Linked DNA regions of Homo sapiens: regions 2, 3, 4 and 5 are each linked to region 1. The links come from fine-mapping of genetic effects on gene expression. Tissue or cell type: whole blood. Region 1 holds a variant in brackets; each other region holds the start of a gene. Each region is shown on its reference strand, or each on the opposite one. Region 1 overlaps IKZF1 (IKAROS family zinc finger 1). Region 2 holds the start of LINC00656 (long intergenic non-protein coding RNA 656). Region 3 holds the start of C4BPA (complement component 4 binding protein alpha). Region 4 holds the start of FGR (FGR proto-oncogene, Src family tyrosine kinase). Region 5 holds the start of CDH26 (cadherin 26).

The links. PIP is the estimated chance that this variant, and not a neighbour inherited with it, causes the effect. A credible set is the group of variants that fine-mapping cannot tell apart.
Region 2: it holds the start of LINC00656, and the variant in region 1 is the best candidate, but not a certain one, in a credible set for the expression of LINC00656 in whole blood (TOPMed, PIP 0.83).
Region 3: it holds the start of C4BPA, and the variant in region 1 is the best candidate, but not a certain one, in a credible set for the expression of C4BPA in whole blood (TOPMed, PIP 0.53).
Region 4: FGR starts here. The variant in region 1 is the best candidate, but not a certain one, in a credible set for the expression of FGR in whole blood (TOPMed, PIP 0.60).
Region 5: CDH26 starts here. The variant in region 1 is the best candidate, but not a certain one, in a credible set for the expression of CDH26 in whole blood (TOPMed, PIP 0.83).

The regions. Positions count from the first base shown.
Region 1 is chr7:50,328,951-50,332,950 of GRCh38, reverse strand. All of the region lies in intron 3 of IKZF1 (IKAROS family zinc finger 1), which reads right to left. Among named protein-coding and RNA genes, the nearest start is that of IKZF1, 26 kb to the right of the region's middle. The variant G/A (reference allele first, on the strand shown) is at 2,293.
Region 2 is chr20:23,130,462-23,134,610 of GRCh38, reverse strand. It overlaps LINC00656 (long intergenic non-protein coding RNA 656), which reads left to right and starts at 1,975. Exons shown (of 4, transcript NR_034149.1): 1 at 1,975-2,112.
Region 3 is chr1:207,101,891-207,106,039 of GRCh38, reverse strand. C4BPA (complement component 4 binding protein alpha) reads right to left here and starts at 1,807. Exons shown (of 12, transcript NM_000715.4): 1 at 1,610-1,807.
Region 4 is chr1:27,633,280-27,637,428 of GRCh38, reverse strand. It overlaps FGR (FGR proto-oncogene, Src family tyrosine kinase), which reads left to right and starts at 2,244. Exons shown (of 13, transcript NM_005248.3): 1 at 2,244-2,364. RefSeq lists an enhancer at 61-120 and a silencer at 3,119-3,168.
Region 5 is chr20:59,956,534-59,960,682 of GRCh38, reverse strand. It overlaps CDH26 (cadherin 26), which reads right to left and starts at 2,260. Exons shown (of 18, transcript NM_177980.4): 1 at 1,888-2,260. The coding sequence starts at 1,956.

The DNA of each region.
Region 1 (4,000 bases):
TGCAAGCTGAAATAAACCACTCATGAAACCATGGCGATCCCCTCCCAACTTCAGGAGTTGGCTGCTCCAGTGCACAGAGCCAGAGAAGCACATTCTGGAATGTACCAGGGCATATAGAAATATACCTTATCTCCCTATATTCAAACTCATGTGTCCTCCCGCCTGAATAACTACTGCCTGAGGTTGTCCCGATTATCAAGCCAGGTAGCAAGTCATTTAGTAAGCCCTGTCCCAGGCCCATATGGGCCTCAATCCTTTGGCCTTCCACGGATTCAACCAACCCATCTCCACTTACATCAATCATGGTCCCAGTTCAGTCCTACAGCATTCCTGTGCCTCTGCCCTGGGTTTTTTCTTCAATTCTACTCTAAGCCCTAAATTTGCTTGTCCTCTTTCTCAGGGGTGGCCATCCCGTTTTCTAGCCTGCAATCTTTCTTCTCTGTCCTCTGGTCTTTTGCTCCTCTGTTCCACCCACCCAAACGCCTCCCCTGCTGCCTGATTTCATGGGGGAGGAATGCCCTTACTCACACCTCCAGACCTGTGGGCTTGTCAATAGAATCCTAGTGGCTGAGGACTCTTGGTTAATTTAGGACACGGAAATGTGTACAAGAGAGAAGTCAGTAACTGGCAAAAATGTATGTATAAAGGAGGAGGAAAAAAATGCAAGGATTACTGAATACGGGAAGAAAATAACTAAGTTTTTACTTTTCTCACACAAAACACTTATCTGCTCTCCAGACCCCAACCCTGACATAATTCCTAAACAAAAAACTTTTAAGAGCCCCTGCTCAAGAGTTTTCAGAACAAGTCTCAATTCATTTTTTTACTTCTCTAGCATGTGTGCCATGGCTGACTGAGTAAATCTGGGGTTGCCTGAAGAGGTCACTGAGTGCATCCTCGGCTTTAAACAGTTTCATACACAACCACTTCAGAGAGGTGAGAGTTCTCTAGTTTTTAAAAAGACCACTTCAGAAGAACAAGCTACAGTCTCACTAAATAGACCATTCTGATGACTAAACTCTCCTTGCCAAAAGGAGAGTAAAGACCACATCTCTCCTTTAAGTCTAACTTAAATTCTTCAAGCAACACTTTAAATCCTTTGTTTCATTTTCTTCAGACCGGGAAGAAAATGGAGGCCAACTGAGGGCTGCAGGGCTGCTCTGCCCTCTGGCTCTGTCTCCTTCTCCCCAAACTTACACACAAACCTAGAATGTTCCTTCCACACTGAATGAAGCAATGAGGTGTGAAACCATTATTTGTTTATTCTGGGAGTGACTCACCAATCAGTATAACTTTGCACCCTCCTCATAGGGAACTGATTTCCACCATTCCCATCAATTTGTTTATTAATATGGTCTGTTATCCTTGTTGAGATTAGATTTGTCTAAAACTGAAGGATGCCAGTGGTCATAACAGCTCACAGCTTTCCAAAAGTGTTCCTTGTCACTTTCTAAAGCAGACACTCTTGCAATCTATTATTAGCAAATAATTTCCCACTTTTTTTTTTTTTTTGCATCTTTTAGCTTCTCACCATTTCTCCTTGAAATTTCAACAGTGGCAGCTCGACTTGAACTTGAGTCAGGTGGCGGCCAGCACCCTTACTCTGTCCTTTAGTCTTGCCCTATTCTAACAAATTCTTCCTTTCTCTTTTGGCTGTTTTCAGTTTGTTTATTCTTTGGACCATTTTTTTTAAAGTAAGAAATCCCTCTTCTATCCTTGGTGCTGGTCATCTGTTCTCTCCCTTTTCCCAAGTGAAGCTACGATAGCTTCATTTACCCTTCTTGTAAATCTTTGAAAGTTCTATTTTGCACAAGTTGCATTTCTTTTTTCTGTCCTTTTTACTTTGTGTCTTTGCTACTCTGTCTTCAACAAATTATGTCTATATATGTTCCATCTAACCCTCAAGGCCATTCTGTGATGCAGGTTCAGTTACTATTGCCACCTTCAAAAGAGGAAAGTGAGGCTCAGAGAAGAAAAGCCTTGCCAGAAGCTCCAGGCCAGGGAGGAGAGGGCCTGGACCTGTCCCTTCTGAGGTGTGCCTTACCCACAGGGCACTCTCCGCCCCTGCTGCTCACCCTGCATTTCAGCAACTCCATTTCCTCCTCTCGGCCCCACTGCTTCTGTCTTTTCATTTCCTGCTGTGCACTCCTTACAGTCCTTTGCACTGATGACTTATTCCCATGGAATAATGTGATGAAATATGGTACCCAGGTTATTCCCTTTATCCACGAATTCCCCTACCTTTTTATATTGTTTCCTAATGTTCTCTACATACTTCATTTATTTAATGCT[G/A]TACACTACAAATTAATGAACAGCCTGTCACCACATATGAAAGCTGGCTGGTTTCCTTCCAGAACCATGGAGGGTGGTCTCTAAACTCAGCTCTGTGAAGAGCCCTCTCTTCCCTCCATGTCTCCTTGGGCACTTCGGTCTTGTGGAATCCTCTCCCTCCTTCACTTCCTCTTCTCAAGCCTCTCCTTTGTGTCGTGCCTGGTTTGTCATGTAGGCTTTTGCATCTTTTTTGCTTTCTTTACAGTAACCTATCACTCCTGTGGCCTCTAGCCCCACTGAGGAGCATTCAATCTCCCAAATCATCTCAGTGCCCACGTCACATGGCTGTTCCCGCCTGTCCACAGGGCTGCATCAACTGCTATTTACAAGCAAAGCAAAGAGGTTTTCTAGGGTTTTTAAATTTCACAATTCTGAAATCATATTTTCTAAATTACATCCTGAAGGAAAAGTAGACTGAAAATCATGTCAAACATGATAAAGGGCAGGGCCAGGACCCATGGGCTATGACAAACCCGCCCCTGACTCCAAGGTGACACCTGTGCTGGGGGCAGCTGGGACCGAGGGCAGGACTTTGAACCAAAAGACAGCTCTGGGAACCCATCAGTAATGCCAACCAGATACTGGGTGATCTCCCACCCAGGAAAACCCACCAACAATATGACGTCCGTAAGGGACAGGATACTGACACTGTTTTGAAGGCACGTGTGCTATTCTTCACTCTCCAGGAATCGGCCTGACTTTCAGTTCTCTAAAGATGCCCTAGCCACGATGGCTCACAGCCTCTAAGGGCAGCTGCAGGGATTCCAGGGAGAGCCCATCTCTTTCTCCACAGCGACCCGAGCTGGCCTCCTCACTCTGACATCCAGGCTCTCTGTTCATTTACATGGTTAATGGATCATTTCTTCTGGTTCAGTCCCTGAGCCTCTGTGTTCTTGGGCAGGGTGTGAGCATCTGTTTGCTCCTGTGTTAAGCAGGAAGAACAGTACCCTTGGCGCTGGGTGCTTCAGGGACTAAAAAAATCAGGGAACATCACCACCCAATGACTATTCCTGTGCCACTTTTGCAAACTTTTATCATATCTATGTACTACTATTGACTTGATGTTTTTATTTAAACTGATTTTTTAATTTATATGAATGTGTTTTGAAAGGAACCCTCGTAGTGGTACAGTGCATGGTAAAACCAGTATCACTTGCAATACATAGAAGACAATCTCAAAAATAAATACATAAATTAAAATGAAACATGATCCTTTGCATCCCAACTTTGGAAAACCCTGAAATGATATATGTATCTTTCTTTGGTAGAATAGAGTAGATAATTCACAAGTTCATTTCTCTTCCCCTCTACTTTCCACATATAGTAGCCATTTTCCAATAGGGTAAAATAATTCATAAATGTACTTGTTTTCTGGATTCATCTACACCAAATGGCTTTAGCCACCATCTTTATCTGTTTGTGCCATTAACTGTGCTGCTGAGTTAAAAAAAAAAAGAACCATTATACCTAGTCCACTTGGTTTCTAAGACACATAAAAAACATACAAAATATGTTTTCTTTACTTTTTCTTTTTTTTTTTTTTTTTTGAGATGGAGTCTGGCTCTGTCATCCAGGCTGGAGTGCAGTGGCGCAATCTCGGCTCACTGCAAGCTCCGCCTGCCGGGTTCACGCCATTCTCCTGCCTCAGCCTCCCGAGTAGCTGGGACTA
Region 2 (4,149 bases), not on the chromosome of region 1:
TTGTTCTTTTTTTCTCAAGATTGTTTGGCTCTCCAGGGCCCCTTAAAATTCCATATGAATTTTAGGATGAATCCTGCTATTTCTGCAGCAAATCCCTTTGGGATTTTGATAGAGATTGCATTGCATCTGTAGATCACTCTTGTTAGTTTTGACACATTATCAATATTAAGTCTTCCAATTCATGAACAAAGGAAATCTTTTAATTTCTTTATTTCTTCTTTAATTTATTTCATTGGTCTTTTTTTTTTTTGAGACAGAGTCTCACTCTGTCGCCCAGGCTGGAGTGCAGTGATGTGATCTCGGCTCACTGCAAGCTCCGCCTCCCGGGTTCACGCCATTCTCTGGCCTCAGCCTCCCGAGTAGCTGGGACTACAGGCGCCCGCCACCGCGCCCAGCTAATTTTTTTGGATTTTTAGTAGAGACGGGGCTTCACCGTGGTCTCGATCTCCTGACCTTGTGATCTGCCCACCTCGGCCTCCCAAAGTGCTGGGATTACAGGCGTGAGCCACCGCGCCCGGCCGGTATTTTTTTAATGTTTTGGTGTCCAAGTCTTTCTCCTTGCTGGTGAATTTTATTTCCAAATGTTTATTCTTTTTGATGCTGTTGTAAATAGAATTGTTTTCTTAATCCCCTCTTGGACTTGTTCACTGTTAGTGTGTTCTGTTTGCCCTGATTGACATGGGAAGCATGACCTAGCTATGTCTGTAAGATCTTAGGACCCTCCCTCTGAGCAGCTGGAAGAGCCCGGGACAGCCTTGGTTAGGCCGCAGTTTTCCAGAACAGACTCATAGCCAGGGAGATCAGTTGCTCACAGCACCCATCTGATAACCGGTTGATAACCGGCACCACAGGAGCTGGCTGCTGGCTCTGCCTTCCTCCCTCCCTAACCAGTGTCTGTGCCTTCTAGTGAAGGGCGCTAACCTTACTATCTCCACCTGCTGATGCCTGTTGGCATTTAAAGTGAGTTTGCATCGTATCAATGACGCCTACATAATACAGTCACAATAAACTGATACGGATGCTCCCTAAATCCCAGCTAATCTTTTTCTGGCCTTAGCCCAAATAAGTTGAATTGATAGATAAACAAAATTAACAAAGAAAAAAATGTGCCGAGATCCTAATGCAGCTCCTTAGAAAAGAGCCCTAAATACCCCGACCCTGCATCCACTGGGATGATGAAGTTCAGGGAGAAGCCTGTGGGCCTCCCCTTCTGCTCTGGAGGGTGAAGCTTTTACTGCCAACGAATGTGTCTGGGCCCCTCTAGGGCAAAGGCAGCTATTGGGGTGGGAAGTGTAGAGGAGACCCACCCTCCATTGTCAGTGCCATCATCTGGTCTCTCCTGTAAACTTTGCAGCCCCAGAGGGAAGCCATCTGGGCGTTAGAGGCTGGAGAGCCCCAGACCAAGGCGCCTTATCTGTCGGCACACTTCTGGAGCTAGGCCCATGACCTCACTCCACCCATGACCTTCCCCACTGACTTCACAGTTCCAGGAATTGTTAGAAAAACCCTTTTTAAAATTCCAGGAAGCCCCAGTCCCCTCAGTGCTGCTGCTCATGCATTGAGAAAGAGAGAGGCGGAGCCAAGCTGGGGTCTTTGTGATCCTGGAGCCCCCACCTCTGGGGCCTGGGGCTGGGGTTAGTCTCTATCTTTCTCTGCTGGCCCTTGGTTCCACAATGTGGAAGCAAGACCAGGCCCTGCAGATAGAGAAGGTTCTCGTGTTCTTGGCCCCCAGCCCTCCAAAGGAAAACCTTTAGCTTAAGGGACTCTCTACCTCCTTTGAAACTCATCCCTCTTCACACTTCGATATGAAACCCAGAAATTCAGAAAACAGAAAGGAAGAATAAGAGGAATGTTAAAAGCCAACGCTTTTCCAGCTCTCATGGTGTGCCTGACACTGTGCAAAGGGCGTTACCTACAATTACCTCATTTGACTCTGACAGTAGTAACCCATGAGACATACGTTGCTATTACCTCATTTTACAGATGACACACTAAGGCGCAAGGCAGCTGCACATCCACGGCCAGCCTCGTTGTCTTCAGGGATTTGTTCAAAGTTCATTCTGAATTGTAAGGTAACCACTGCAGAACACGAGCCTTTCCTGGGTATGTGTGGTAAGTGCTTCATAAATGCTGTTCTGAGGCTAGGTGCTAATGGAGACGGGGCAGATGAGTGGTAGAGTGAGCCCCGGTCCTAGGCCCAGTTCTGCAGCTGCTGGAGGAGCAATCCATCAGCCTGCTCCAGGCCCCGGCCCTCTCCTGGGAAACAAGTCCTTCTGCCATATGAGCTCCCTGAGGACTAAATGGGACTGCGTTGCGGACTTAGTTGCTGGACACACATGATTTTGTCACCTCTGTACTAGTGTGACTGGGACCCACCTTCCAGGCAGAATAAATCCATGCTGAAATTGACTTGATGTCTGTGCTGCTATTCTTGGAGAAAAAGATAAGAATCAGGAAATAAATAGTGCATAAACCACACAACCAGAAAACACACCGAATAATCGTGCTGACGATATAATGACAAGAAGCGGGGCCTTAACAAATAAGGAAAAGGGCCGCGGTAGGATGATCTGCTGCTGGTCTAAGAGGTCAGCTTCTTGTTTGGGCTGAAGTCTTTGGGATTCTTGGAAAGCCTGGCCAGTCATTTCACGTGCTGAAAGGATTGTGGGCCACGTTTTAATCGTGGTCAGATTATCAGGAGATTCTTGAGGTCTGAGGTCAATTTAAGCTCCTGGTCACCATGTAAGCCTCACAAATATGGTCACTGTCTGTGGCAGCTGACCCGGGTGATGCTTGTGTGGCGGAATTCTTCAGTTATCACAGAAATAAATACCAATTGGTGGAAAAAGAATATTTTGTTATTCTCTAGTGGACTTTAGGAATGGCTGACAGAGATAAAGGACCCTTCAGTAGCACAGGCTACACCATGCCCTTTTTTAAATTATTTTTTTATTTTTCATTATAATTTTTTTTAAAGATAGGGTCTCCCTCTGTTACCCAGGCTGGAGTGCAGTGGTGCAAACATGGCTTATTGCAGCCTCAGCCTCCTAGAATCAAACGATCCTCCCACCTCAGCCTCCTGTGTAGCTGGGACCACAGGCACATGCACCACGCCTGGCTGATTTTTTTTATTTTTTGTAGAGTTGGGATCTCAGGTTGTTGCCTAGGCTGGTCTAAAACTGCTGGGCTCAAGCCATTCTCCTGCCTCAGCCTCCCACATTGCTGGGATGACAGGCCTGAACCACCACACCAGGCCTCCATGCCTCTTGAGATGTCAAACATCTGGATCAAGATACGGAAAATCAGAGTGCTCAAATATAGCTTAAGTCATCCAGAGTGAGCTCTCTACGGATTACACAGGGCACTCAATCCATAGCATGATGCCATGTTTTCCAATGGACAACACTGCTTTTAAGTAAACCAGGTTTCTTTATTTATAGTTGTTTGTGAATTTAATATGCTAATAAATATTTTAATTGCCAAGCCAGGGTAAGTATACAGCTATGCTCAAGCATAATTTGACAAAACATTCAAACTCATTTTGCTTCTTTTTTTGAATGGAATATCTATTGACTTATTGTGGAAAATACGTGATCCAAAAACAGCGGCTTGCCAAATACTGCTTGAAGAAACCTAAAGATAACTGAATCTTTCACACTTAGTCGTGCTGTTTGGAGGTCTGGTTTATTTTGTTCCACTGAAATCCTTGGCAGGGAAGTGGAATAAAAGAAAATCTTGCTGTGACTTAGACCTTCTGAGTTTGCTAACACCTTTGCATCATGTTTAGAAGACTACATTCTTTTCACCCTGTGAAGTGTGAAGTCTGGGATGTTGGGTGACTTGGAGAGTGGCCCTCTTTGGGTTTTATCCTCAGCTCTTATGAAATTTTGGTGCTTCAGGGACAGTGTGTCACAGGCAGCCAAAAGCGCTGGATAAGCAAGAAGAGCCATTTGGAACTTTCTAAGTCTTATGCAAGTTTTGGCAAAAAAAAGAAAAAAGCCTTCCTTGCTACTTTTCAGGGAGGTCGATACTAACATTTGCCCCCCACCCAGGGTGTGAACTGGAGGCATCACTGCCTGGATGAGTGCCGGGGGCTGTGGAGGGTCCTCCGATGTGACTCTCATTCCCAGCATTTTTAGGCCCCATGTC
Region 3 (4,149 bases), not on the chromosome of region 1:
CATCTCTAAAATAATGACATTAAACCTAGATGAACAAATTCTGCAATTCTGTAACTGCTCACTGAAAAGCTGAGACTACTCTAGCCAACTTTCATATTTCAAGGACTTCACCTTTTAAATTCCTGCAGAAATGGAACCAACTCAAGAACTTTAGTCAGCATGGCGGGTCCCTTGTGAAAAATAATATCAGCACTTAGCAATGCAGTGCAATTTGAGAGTCACTGGAAAAATCTTTAGTCCTCAAATTTCTCCTTCCATGAGAAGTTACTTTTTAAGTTAATATTTATTTTGTCTAACTTCCCCCTTTTAAAATGCAGATACCTTGTGAAAGGATAGTATTTTTCTCCAGTCTCGGGCTGAGTGTCTTCTTCCTTATACCTGGGCTCTCAATTATATCACTTACAAACTCCAGAAAGAACTGGCTCCCACACTTTCCCCACCCTTCCTAGAATCTCTTTTTTTTTTCTTTTTTTTTTTTTTTTGAGGTGGAGTTTCACTCTTGTTGCCCAGACTAGAGTGCAATGGCACGATCTCAGCTCACCCCAACCTCTGCCTCCCTGGTTCAAATGATCCTCCTGCCTCAGCCTCCCAAGTAGCTGGGATTACAGACATGTGCCACCATGCCTGGCTAATTTTGTAATTTTAGTAGAGACAGGGGTTCTCCATGTTGGTCAGGCTGGTCTCGAACTCCCGACCTCAGGTGATCCGCCAGCCTCGGCCTCCCAAAGTGCTGGGATTACAGGAGTGAGCCACCGTACCTGGCCAAATCTCTTTATTTTTCTATCAGCCCCTTTATTCTGTGCTCATACTACATTCAAACATATCTCTAAGCTTAATGCCAACCTTCTTTGATGCTTCTGCCTCTTCTGTAGTCTACTTTTTATTCTTTTGGTGTTACCATATTTAGAGATAGAATAGGAATCAGCAAAGAGACAAGTGGTTGAAGAATTAAAATGAGGACCAGAATGGTACTGTATCCTGGCCAACCAAGGAAGAAGAGAATTTCAAGAAGGAAGGGTTATCAGCATCGTCAAATTCAGAAAGTAAAGAAGATGAGGACGACTAAGACTGCTAGCTTCAGAAACCAACTGGAGGCTGGCCAGTGTCCTCCTTATTACCAAATCTAAACATCTTTGCTGTCAGTGGTGGAGGAGATTTGGAGTGGTTAATCAAATCTCAAAATAGAAATGGCCCCAGTTTTCAGAATGTAGACTAAGAAAAGCAAGCTTCCTGTGAACCCTTTGAAAAGTCTGATTGACCCCTTGCCTCAACTCTGATGTGGGAAGGTGGTGAAAGATCAACAAACCAACACATCTGTCTTTTAGATACAGTAACAAGAGCAACACCTTACACCTCTTCTTCTTTAGCTTATTTTATTAGAATGCAATATTATTCCTCCATTTATAATTTTTAAAACTTGAGGTTCAGATAGGGTTTAAAGTACGTCTCAAGTCTTACATCCCCCTAATACAGTGCTCCTGAAAAGATTTCTGCTGAAAACACCTCCAAGCTTTTGTCTCTGTTTTATCCTTCTAATCCTGCACTCCTTAAAGGGCCAAACCACCAGCCTTTCCTCCAAGCTTCCCCAAGGGTTTAGTAGTCCACCGACCTTTGGTAGTTGAGGAAGAGCAGAAGACTCTATGATGATATCTGGGATAGTTTCTCAAAGAAGAAAACTGCCTTGATCTATGTAGTCCTGGTTCCTCCCCAGATCAGAGTTTATCATAATACCCTGAAGTTGACTGGTAATTGCTCCACCAAAGAGTCCCTGAATTTCAGCCATGTGGTTGGCTGGTCAAGGACGGTTGATGGAAATAGATGGGCAGAAACTTTTGACGGGCCCAATGAATGATTAACAGCAGAAATAAAGCAGCACTGTTTACCTAAGCTCCTTCCTCTTTGCTAGTCCTCATTCTTCGTAACATGTCGCAATCGTTTATTTTCTCCTCTGCCAACCATTTCCCCTAAGTGGAAAGGTAATTTGAATTTGAAGCCAGAATTCTTTTTTCTTTTCATAAACACATAAGGGTTATGGCAAGACACAGTCCAGCTAGCCTGGAAACCTTGGATACTGCGAGGTTCAGAGAGCCTCCGCAAAAATGATCCACTTTCCATGACACTAGGTCCAGTATGCTTTCCTGGAGTTTGAAAACTGATATTCTTGCCCAGAGCTCGTCTCTATCCCACCCCAAGGAATTACAAAAGGTGGGGAATTTATCAAACATGCATTGGGTTTCCACTATGTGCTGAGTTATCTAGAACGTATTTGGAGTTCAGCAAATGTTAACTGCTACTACATGTCAGGCACCAGAGGGCCTCCAAAAATTGATCTATCCAGTGCGCTCAGAAGAACGCAATGAAGGACCGGCCATGTTTCCTCTCGCATAGATCTAAAAAGACCACAAGCACTTACATAGTCCAATTAAGCTACTAATCCTCAAGGTTAAGATTTGTGTGCTCAGAAGATTGCTATTAAAAGGCAATTCTTTCTGAGAACTTCACTTTTTCTGTAATAAATACTGAAAGTCCCAGAAGAGTTTCAGAAAAGGAACTAAACTACAACAGGTTGAGTTAATCAAGGAAGTTTCTACAGAAGATGTGAGATTTGGATAAAAGGTAGAAATTATTAGATAAAAGTGGTAAGGATATTAGATGTAAAGAAACCATGCGCTAGGTCACCAAGGTGAGACACTGATTTGACCAGAATGAAGATAGAGGAGGATTCCAGATTGCACAGTCTTGAGACTAAATTGGAAGAAATATCACCTTTAAAGCTGCTATTTCTTTAAAGTACCGTTTTCCAATGTATTGAAGTCCTTTCGTTTACTTTCCACAGTGACTCTTGCAGATTTTTCTCTCCAGGTCACCAAATTGTCACATTCCCTCTCAGCAGATGCTCTTACCTCCTACTTTACTAAAAATCATTCTACCTTAGCTTCATCAATGTCAAATTTTCCCTCCTATTCACTCCTCATTCCGAGGAGAATTGTTTCTTCTTTTCCTGCCTCATTTTCAATGCATCTCTCATCCTGAAATGTCCCTTCAATTTTGCCAATACCTCAAATTCCACCTTTCTTCTTTAGTGTGATGCTGAACTTCTCAAAGGTGTGACTTGTTCTACCTGCCTGTTCTTTCTCATTCATCACTCCACCTGTTGCTTTCCCATCTGGCTTCTACCACTCTTCTACTGACATGTCTCTCTGAGGCACGCCCTTAGGTCCAAGTCCAAAATATCTTTAATTCATTTCTTAGGATCTGTCTGCAGCCTTTGTCACTGCTGATCATTTCCTTTCTGAAACTCTCTTCTCCTTTGGCTTCCATGACACTAAACTTACCTGATTCCCTTAACTTAACTAATTTCTCTTTCTTAGTTACTGTTACCTTCTCTTCCTCCTTCTCATTCCTAAATATAGATATATCTCAGGCTCTTCTTTTTTTAAAAAAATTATCTTCGCAATTTTAATGATCTTGCCTTCTGTCACAGCTTTAACTATTACCAGTAAGAAGACTAGCCAGCACTACATTATTATTTCTGATTACTCTCCGAAACTCAAGACTTACTTTCTTAGGTTTTGTTTTTTTTTTCCCCCCACTGGACATCTTGCAAGCACTTCACCCTCAGCACATCCAAAGAGGAATTTCTCATTTCCGGCCAACAAGCTTCACTTTCTGACCCCAGCTTTTTCTGACCTCTGGTTCTCGGGAATAAAATTTCAGATTCACTTTTGAACTCTTCCTCTCCCTCACCCTTCAATGTTTGATTAGTTGACAGGTTGTTTTGATACAAGTTTTCAATATCTCTCGTGTCTGCTGCTGCTTTTTCATTTCTGCTGCCACCAAACCAGTTCAGGTTGATAATGCCTCCCATATGGACTATTGTAGGAGTCCTTTCGTTGGTTTCTCTTAGTTCTTTTCCCTCATCAACCAATACTACAACCAACATTGTGAGAGAAATCTTTCTTTATGTTCTGTCCTTATTACTTCATTGTTTGCAAGGCTTCCATGTCTTCATGGTCTGACTGCCAAAAAACAAATGTATATTCTCTGCCTACCAAAAACAAGTGTATATTCTCTAGCACGTCATTCAAAAGCCTCCATAAACTGGCTTTGACTTATCTTTCCAGCCACCTTCTCTCTCACCAATTTCCA
Region 4 (4,149 bases), not on the chromosome of region 1:
AGCCTGCTACTGTGTGCTGGGCCTTGTGTGGGTACTGGAGGCATCTACAAGAGCCAGACCCCTGCCCTTGAGGAAAACATATCCCACACACCCATCCCCCAGGAACCAGTGGTGCCCCAGGCAGAAGATGCTGAGGTTCTGCTGGGGGTGTGGAGTGGGTAGAGGCAGCAATCAGGGAAGGCCTCTAGAGCAGATGCTTGTGAGTCAGACCTTGAAGGATGACAGAGCGAGCATGATAGATTGGGGGGATCCCCCAAGAGCAGGGACCAGTCTCTCATCTCTGTGTTCCCTAAGGCTGGCACCTAAGACACAATTATAAACGTTTGCTTGTTTGCTAATTGAACATGTGGGCCGATGGCCAGGCAGGGAGCATTTGATGGCGGAGGTGATGCTGCCCGGCTAGGGTGAAGCCACTCTTCCAGAGACCCTGCACTGCCACTGGCTCCTCTGTCTTCCTCCTCATCCCTCCTCCCATTTCCTAAGAGAAAAGCATTCTTATCTCCATCCCACCACTCTGTTACCCCAGGCACATTGGGCCACACTTGAGCATGTGTACGCATGCACACACACATCCCCACATGCCCCTGCCCATACAAAGAAACACACTTGCCTGCACACCATGGCCTAGTTGTTGATTCCAAAAGCAAAGTCATCATGTCATTGCTTTCTCTCTCTCTCTCTCTCTCACACACACACACACACACACACACTTCTGTGTTTACGCACACTCTCCCTGCCTCTCACCACATCCCAACAGACACATCCTTCTCCACCAAACAGCCCTCCCCACCACACCTCTTCCTCTCCTGGACAGGAGGGATATTCCGGGTTCTTGCTTTAAGGCTGAAGTAACAGTGGTGGGAGTGGGGACTGAACCCCAGATTGAGGAGGGGTCAGGGATCCCTATCAGACAGAGAGACTGGAACTGATAGAGGATGCTACCGTTTCTCTTTTTGTTTTTAAAAATCTTTTTCCACATGTTCTAAGATACTCAGTTTTTCTTCCTTTTTTTTTTTTTTTTTTTTTTTCTTGAGACGGAGTCTCGCTCTGTCGCCCAGGCTGGAGTGCAGTGGCGCCATCTCGGCTCACTGCAAGCTCCGCCTCCCGGGTTCACACCATTCTCCTGCCTCAGCCTCCTGAGTAGCTGAGACTACAGGCGCCCGCCACCACGCCCGGCTAATTTTTTGATTTTTAGTAGAGATGGGCTTTCACTGTGTTAGCCAGGACGGTCTTGATCTCCTAACATCGTGATCCACCCGCCTCGGCCTCCCAAAGTGCTGGGATTACAGGCGTGAGCCGCTGCACCCGGCCTTTTCTTTCTTTTTTTTAAAAAAAGTCATTTTCTGCAACAAAACCCACATTCTTTTTTTGTGTTTTTTTTTTTTAAGGCAGGGTCTTGCTCTGTCACCCAAGGTAGAGTGCAGTAGCTCAATCACAGCTCACTGCAGCCTCGACCTGCCTGACTCGAGGGATCCTTCCACCTCTGCCTCTGCAGTAGCTGGGACCACAGGTGCACACCACCACACCGAGCTAACTTAAGAAAAATTTTTTTTGGTAGAGATGGTGTCTCCCTATGCTGCCTAGGCTGGTCTGGAATTCCTGGGCTCAAGCAATCCTCCCACCCAACCTCCCAAAGTGCTGGGATTACAGGCTGAGCCACTGCCCCCAGCCAGTTACTCAGTTTTTCTAAAACTTGGGTGCCTGGGGGAGGCTGACACCCTTCCCACTCCTCTGAAAGGCAGTTTCCTAAGGGAAGGGTCTTCTGCTGCTCACCACCCTTAACAGCCCTGTGTCCCCAGTGCTCAGCCCCTGAGGAAGGGAAGGCGTGCTGACAGGGTCCATGTGATCCATGTCCAGTGGCTCTGGTGACAGCAGTCTGAAGTCAACTGGCTGTGAGAACTCGAGTAAGGCCAGTCCCGATCTGGTCCTCAGTGATGGAGAAAAGCCCCTCTTAACCTCCAATTCAATGATCCTAAAAGAGCAGGTGCTTCGGGGGTGCTGAAACTGCGCTTTTGGAGGGGGCTTTTGGGAAGGCCGGGCTGGGGACTCAGGTCTGGAGGGTGACAGAGCCGACCTCCCGTAAACCAGGGAGGAGGAAGGTGGGGGCGGGTGGGCCTAGGATCTGGGGGCGCCTCCTCGCTGCGGGGAGCTGGCTTGGGGCTAGGGCGTGACTGTCTCCCTGCCACCATCACCGCCCGCCGGCCGTGACTGCAATAAGAGAAGTCCGAGGCGGCTTCCTCCTCCCTGCCCAGCAGGGGCGGCGGTCAGAGGCGGGCAGCACCCCAGTTCTCCCCGCACGCCGGCACTCGCGGCTGCTGGAGCCCCGGCTGGCTCACCCCGGGGCCGGGCAGAATTGGGCTCCAGGTAAGCGACAGCGTCGGGTGGGGACTGGGCAGGTCAAGCAGTGCCCTCCCCCTCGAGGCTCTGGAGAGAGGACTGGGGGTACACGGGAAGAGAAGCCTGAACCTGGGGGTCGGGGGACACATGAGCAAGGTGACAGCCAAAGGGACCCCAGCCCGAAAAGGCCTAAGGAGGAAAACGGGCGACCTGAAAAGCAAGGCTGATAAACCTGGAGGAGAGGGCGGAGGGGAGCACGGGGGAAGCCGACCAAAGGGACCCCCAAAAAGGTCTAGTGGGTAAAATGGAGGGGACTGATAAGAGTTTAGGAAGGGGGCTGAGGTGGGGGAGAAGGATTAAGGGGAATCCCCAGGACGGTCTGGGGGAGAAACTGAAGGGATCGTGAGAGTGGGACTTTGGGGAGAAGCCGACGGGTCTGATGGGTCCAGGAGAGGGGAAATGGGTGGGGGTGCTGGAGGGAACAGGAGAGGGAGCTGGCGGGAAGGGGGTTGAGGAGAACGACTTCTGGAGGACGGAGAACCTGGGGTGCAATTGCGGGTCCAGGAAGTTCCCCTCTTCCGAGCCGGCCGAAGTCGGGGTGAAGCCCACAGCCCGCAGGGTAACGTTAGCGGCCGCGACCGCGGCCCCGCGACCCTCTCGGCCCGCCCTTGCGGTAGGTTCCGGGCTGCAGGGGACTCCTGCCGGGCGCGCGAGGCGTGGGTCCCCGCTTCCTGGGGAAGTCCCCGCCCTCGGCAGGGACAGGCCTCTCCGGGCGCCCCCTCCGCGCCCGCGGCGGTCTCGGCCCGCGCTCCCCGCTGGATCCGGGAATTGCTGCCGCCCCGACGGAAATCCTGCCTTTGACCGCGAGTGCCCGCAGGGGCTGCCTCCAAGGCAACGAGAGGGCGGGCCGCGCTGGGCCGCCGCGGGGCTCCGGGTGGGCGCAGCCCCCTTTGCTCTCCGCCTTCGCCCCCTTTTGGAATCCTCGGTCTGGTGGGTGGGGGGTGGGCTTCCCGACCGAGGTAGGAGGCGATGCCGCTGTGTTCAGGGATCCTGGGGTGGAGGATCTGCTGTTTGAGAGACCTGGGTTCTTAGCAAGACTGGGCCCTTAATTGCTGTGTGACTGTGGGCAAGTTACAGGGCTTCTCTGGGCCTCACTTTCCTCATCTGAACTATGGTGAGAAATGATCCTTGTGTCCACTCTTCCCCCACGAGAATCAGGTGCAGAAAGCAGTTTTTGCTGAGTGTCCTGAAGGGTTAAGGGCTATCCCTGACTCAGCGAGCCTCCCCTTCACCTTCTCAAAAACATGCAGAGGAGGCCAGCCTGGGCAGCACAGGGAGACCCCCGTCCTGTCTCTACAAAAAAATATAGTTAGCCAGAAGGCTGGAAGTGGTGGCACCTGCTGTAGTCCCAGCTACTCCAGAGGCTGAGGCCGGAGGATCGCTGGAGCCCACGAGTTCAAGGCTGCAGTGAGAGCTCCTGGATGAGAGAGTGAGATTTTGTCTGTAAACAACAACAACAACAAAAAGCATGGAGGGGGACCAGACTGCCCGGCTCTCACTGACAGGGCCTCCAGGGACCAGCACACAGTTGGCGTCTAAATAGTTTATGGCTCTGATGAGAGCCCATACTGGGGAGGTCAGCAGAGTTAAAATCTGTCTCACACCCTCTCTGGTGCTGCATCCAGTTGGCCGCCCCTCGGGTGTGTACTCTCAGGGGCCCTGATGTCCTTGGCATCCTTCCGACTGTGGTGATGATGGGAGAGCAGGACCCTGTTCCCACTTCACAGATGGGAAGATGGAGGTTTGGGAGTT
Region 5 (4,149 bases), not on the chromosome of region 1:
TGAGAAGGATTATATCATTGTTTTGAAATAATTATCTTTGGCTACAAAGATCAATAAGAAGGGTGACACTGGTCTGAGTTTGCACAAAAAGTTGCTGGGAAGATTTCTTCGAAAAAGTATTTTTTGTGTAAGGTTTTAACGGCCTTTGTGCAAAGTTGTTATTTTTGCAGAGCTTTTGTGATAGTTTTAGTTATCAAGCCTACAAATGTGAGAACCCCCTTTTCATAACCTTCTTTGTGTCTATATATCAGGCTTTGTGCCTGTGTGTGTGTGTGTGTGTGTGTGTGTTTTAACATAAGGAACTCCATTCTGATTCTGACAACTTTCGCAGTACCAAGGGCTTTTACGCATTTCCTCATTCACTGGTACAACCACTGGCTCAGATAAATTCAGTTACTAGCTCCATTTTCAGGTGAAGAAAAATAGGCTTAACAAGGTTATGTTAAAACCAGTGCACTGACACCCAGTGCACTCCCAGGTCAGCTCAACCTGAACCTTTGGGGGCAAAACCCAGGCACTGAGATCCCTTGAAGCTCCCTAGGTAAGTTCAACTTGATCCAAGGTAAGGAACAAAGTTAAGCTGGCCTAGGTCCCCAGCGGGCTGTGAAGGAGCCTAGGTCAGGACGCCAAGCAGCCCAGTCCAGAGCTCACAGTTACCAGCCACTGGGCTGCTTCCCACCCTCAGCTGGTATTCAAAGGAAGAAATGATTCCCTCTCCCTACCTACAGAAAGCCAACGAAGCAGATCATAACCAACAAGCGCATGCAACATTACCTCTGTCCACTCTAAGTACAAACAGAGCAAGCCCATGTGTTTCGAATCCTGACTCCACTAGTTTGTATTCCCATTTAAACAGTGGCAGTTGGGGGCAATGGATTTAGCCATTCCATCCCCATGGGTTTGCTCAAATTGCCTTGGATCCAGACAACTGAGATTTCCTCAATCTTATGTAAAGTGTGAACAGAAGTATCATTATAAAACTTGGCAGGGCGCAGTGTCTCAAGCCTGTCATCCTAACACTTTGGGAGGCTGAGGCAGGCAGATCACTTGAGGTCAGGAGTTTGAGACCAGCCTGGCCAACATGGTGAAACCCTGTCTCTAATAAAAATACAAAAACTAGCCGGGCATGGTGGCGTGCACCTGTAGTCCCAGTACTCGGGAGGCTGAGCCAGGAGGTTGCTTGAACCCAGTAGGAGGAGGTTGCGGTGCACTGAGATGTCACCACGCACTGTAGCCTGGATGACGAGACCCTGTCTCAAAAAAAAAAAAAAATTGTGTGTGTTGGCTGGGTGAGGTGGCTCATGCCTGTAAACCCAACACTTCGGAAGGGCAAGGCGAATAAATCACTTGAGCTTAGGAGTTCGAGACCAGCCTGGGCAACATGGTGAAAATCCATCTCTATAAAAAATACAGAAATTAGCCAGCGTGGTGGTAAGTTACTGTAGTCCCAGCTACTCTTGAGGCTGAGGTGGAAGGATCACCTGAGCCTGGGAGGTTAAAGCTGCAGTGAGCCTTGATCATGCCACTGCACTCCAGCCTGGATGATGAAGCCAGACCCTGTCTCAACAAAAGGAGAAAGAAACAAAGAAAGAAAACACGTGTGTGTTGATGTAATCTCACTAAAAATAGTGTGAACTATATAAATTAGTTTTAAACAGGTCCCTTAGCCTGCTCCCACTGTTGCCCCAAACAGACTGGGACCCTTAACTTCCCTTTATATAAATCCAGAGCCCCTGCTACCTAAGCCATTCTCAAGACAGCCAGCCCTGGGTCCCAGCAGGTCACACTCAGTCCCTCTCCCCTCCCTTAGCCTAGAAGGGGCAGGGCCAGCTTGTGCTTTGCTTTCAGTTCCCTGCACCTGAGCACTAGGCTGCAGGCTCAGCTTACCTGCAGCAGCCACAGCAGCAGCACTAGAAGCAGCAGCAGCGAGGGGTGCCTCCCGGATCTCATGGCCATATGGGAATACCCAAGACAGACCCAGAACGTGCAGCTGATGACCAGTCCTCCAAGCTGGTGGTCTCACCGGAGCCACACACCTCCTTCTCAGCCAGCAGCTTCTTCTCTAAAGGTTTTCAGGTCACTTTGGCCCAGATGCTTTCATCCCATCTTGCTCCTCCCTTTTCAGCTTTTCTTGCATTTATCAGAGTGGGGTGGGCTGACTTGTAAGCTTGAACATACGTTTGCCACAAGTAGAGTTCCTAGGAAGGGTGGGGTAGAAACTAAAGCCACCATGGTCCTGCACGTACACAAAAGACTGGCTGGGGTCTGACCTCAGGAACAACAGCTCAGCCAGCGGAAGTAAAACCAGCACCTATCGGAAAGCAGAATTATTTGTTTCTTTGTTTCCTTGTTTGTTCTGGTTTCCAAATAGAAGGTCCAATCATCTCTTTCTATAGCAGGATATGTTAGTGACTATTTTCTATAATCTTATCCTCTTGAACCAAACAAAAAAAACTAGAAAATGACAAGAATGATAACTTTATTAAGGGGGAAGGGATGGGGAAGAATGAAAGAAAAGAAAAATCAACTTTTACTTTCCAAAGCACTAAAAATCGTTATTCCAACAATATCCCAGGGCTCTGGGGTTTTCAAATTATTTCTACTAAAACCTTTTTTAAGCTTAGATTAATCTGCCTTTTTGAGTTTGGAATTAAAGTGGGAGGGAGGAGAGATGGGAAAGAGCCTCCCTATGGACAGGGATCTCTGTGGCAACCCGGGAGTCTTTGCATGAGAATTCTGAAAGAGACAATTTGAGATTATATTATACCAATACTTAAGGTTGCAGTAAGCAAGTTTTAAAACACAATCTGTGATACATTAACCCTGATTACCTTAACATGACCTTTTTATCACATTACCTTGTTTAAAGTAGTAAACAGATAAAATAAAAGGTAAACTTTCTTTGCTTGTTCTAGATATTGGCTTAGGCAAGGATTTCATGACCAAGAACCAAAAAGCAAATGCAATAAAATCAAAGATAAATAGCTGGGACCTAATTAAACTAAAGAGCTTTTGCACTGCAAAAGGAACAGTCAGCAGAGTAAACAGACAACCCACAGAGTGGGAGAAAATCTTCACAATCTATACATCTGACAAAGGATTAATATCCAGAATCCACAATGAACTCCAACAAATCAGTAAGAAAAAAACAATCCCATCAAAAAGTGGGATAAGGACATGAATAGACAATTCTCAAAAGAAGATATACAAATGGTCAACAAGCATATGAAAAAATGCTCAACATCACCAATGATCAGCAAAACGCAAATCAAAACCGCAGTGCGATACCACCTTACTCCTGCAAGAATGACCATAATCAAAAAATCAAAAAACAGTAGACGTTGGTGTGGATGTGACAATCAGGGAACACTTCTACACTGCTGGGGGGAATATAACATAGTACAGCTGCTATGGAAAACAGTGTGGAGATTCCTTAAAGAACAAAAGTAGAACTACCATTTGATCCAGCAATCCCACTACTGGGTATCTTCCCAGAGGAAAAGAAGTCATTATTCGAAAAAGATACTTGCACATGCACGTTTATAGCAGCAAAATTCACAATTGCAAAATCGTGGAACCAACCCAAATGCCCATCAATCAACTAGTGGATAAAGAAAATGTGTATATGCGTATCTATATGTATATATACACATATATGCGTGTATATATGTGTATGTACATATATACACATATATGTGTGTATATATGTGTATGTACATATATACACGCATATATGTATATATACACATATATGTGTATATATGTGTATGTACATATATACACATATATACATACATATATACACACATATATGTATATATATACATACACATATATACACACATATATGTATATATATACATACACATATATATACACATATATATGTATATATATGTGTATATACAGATATATATGATGGAATACTACTCAGCCATAAAAAGGAATGAATTAACAGCATTTGCAGTGACCTGGATGAGATTGGAGACTATTATTCTAAATGAAGTAACTCAGGAATGGAAAATCAAACATTGTATATTCTCACTGATTTGTGGGAGCTAAGCTATGAGGACACAAAGGCATAAGAATCATACAATGGACTTTGGGGAATTGGGGGGAAGAGTGGGAAGAGGGTGAGGGATAAAAGAC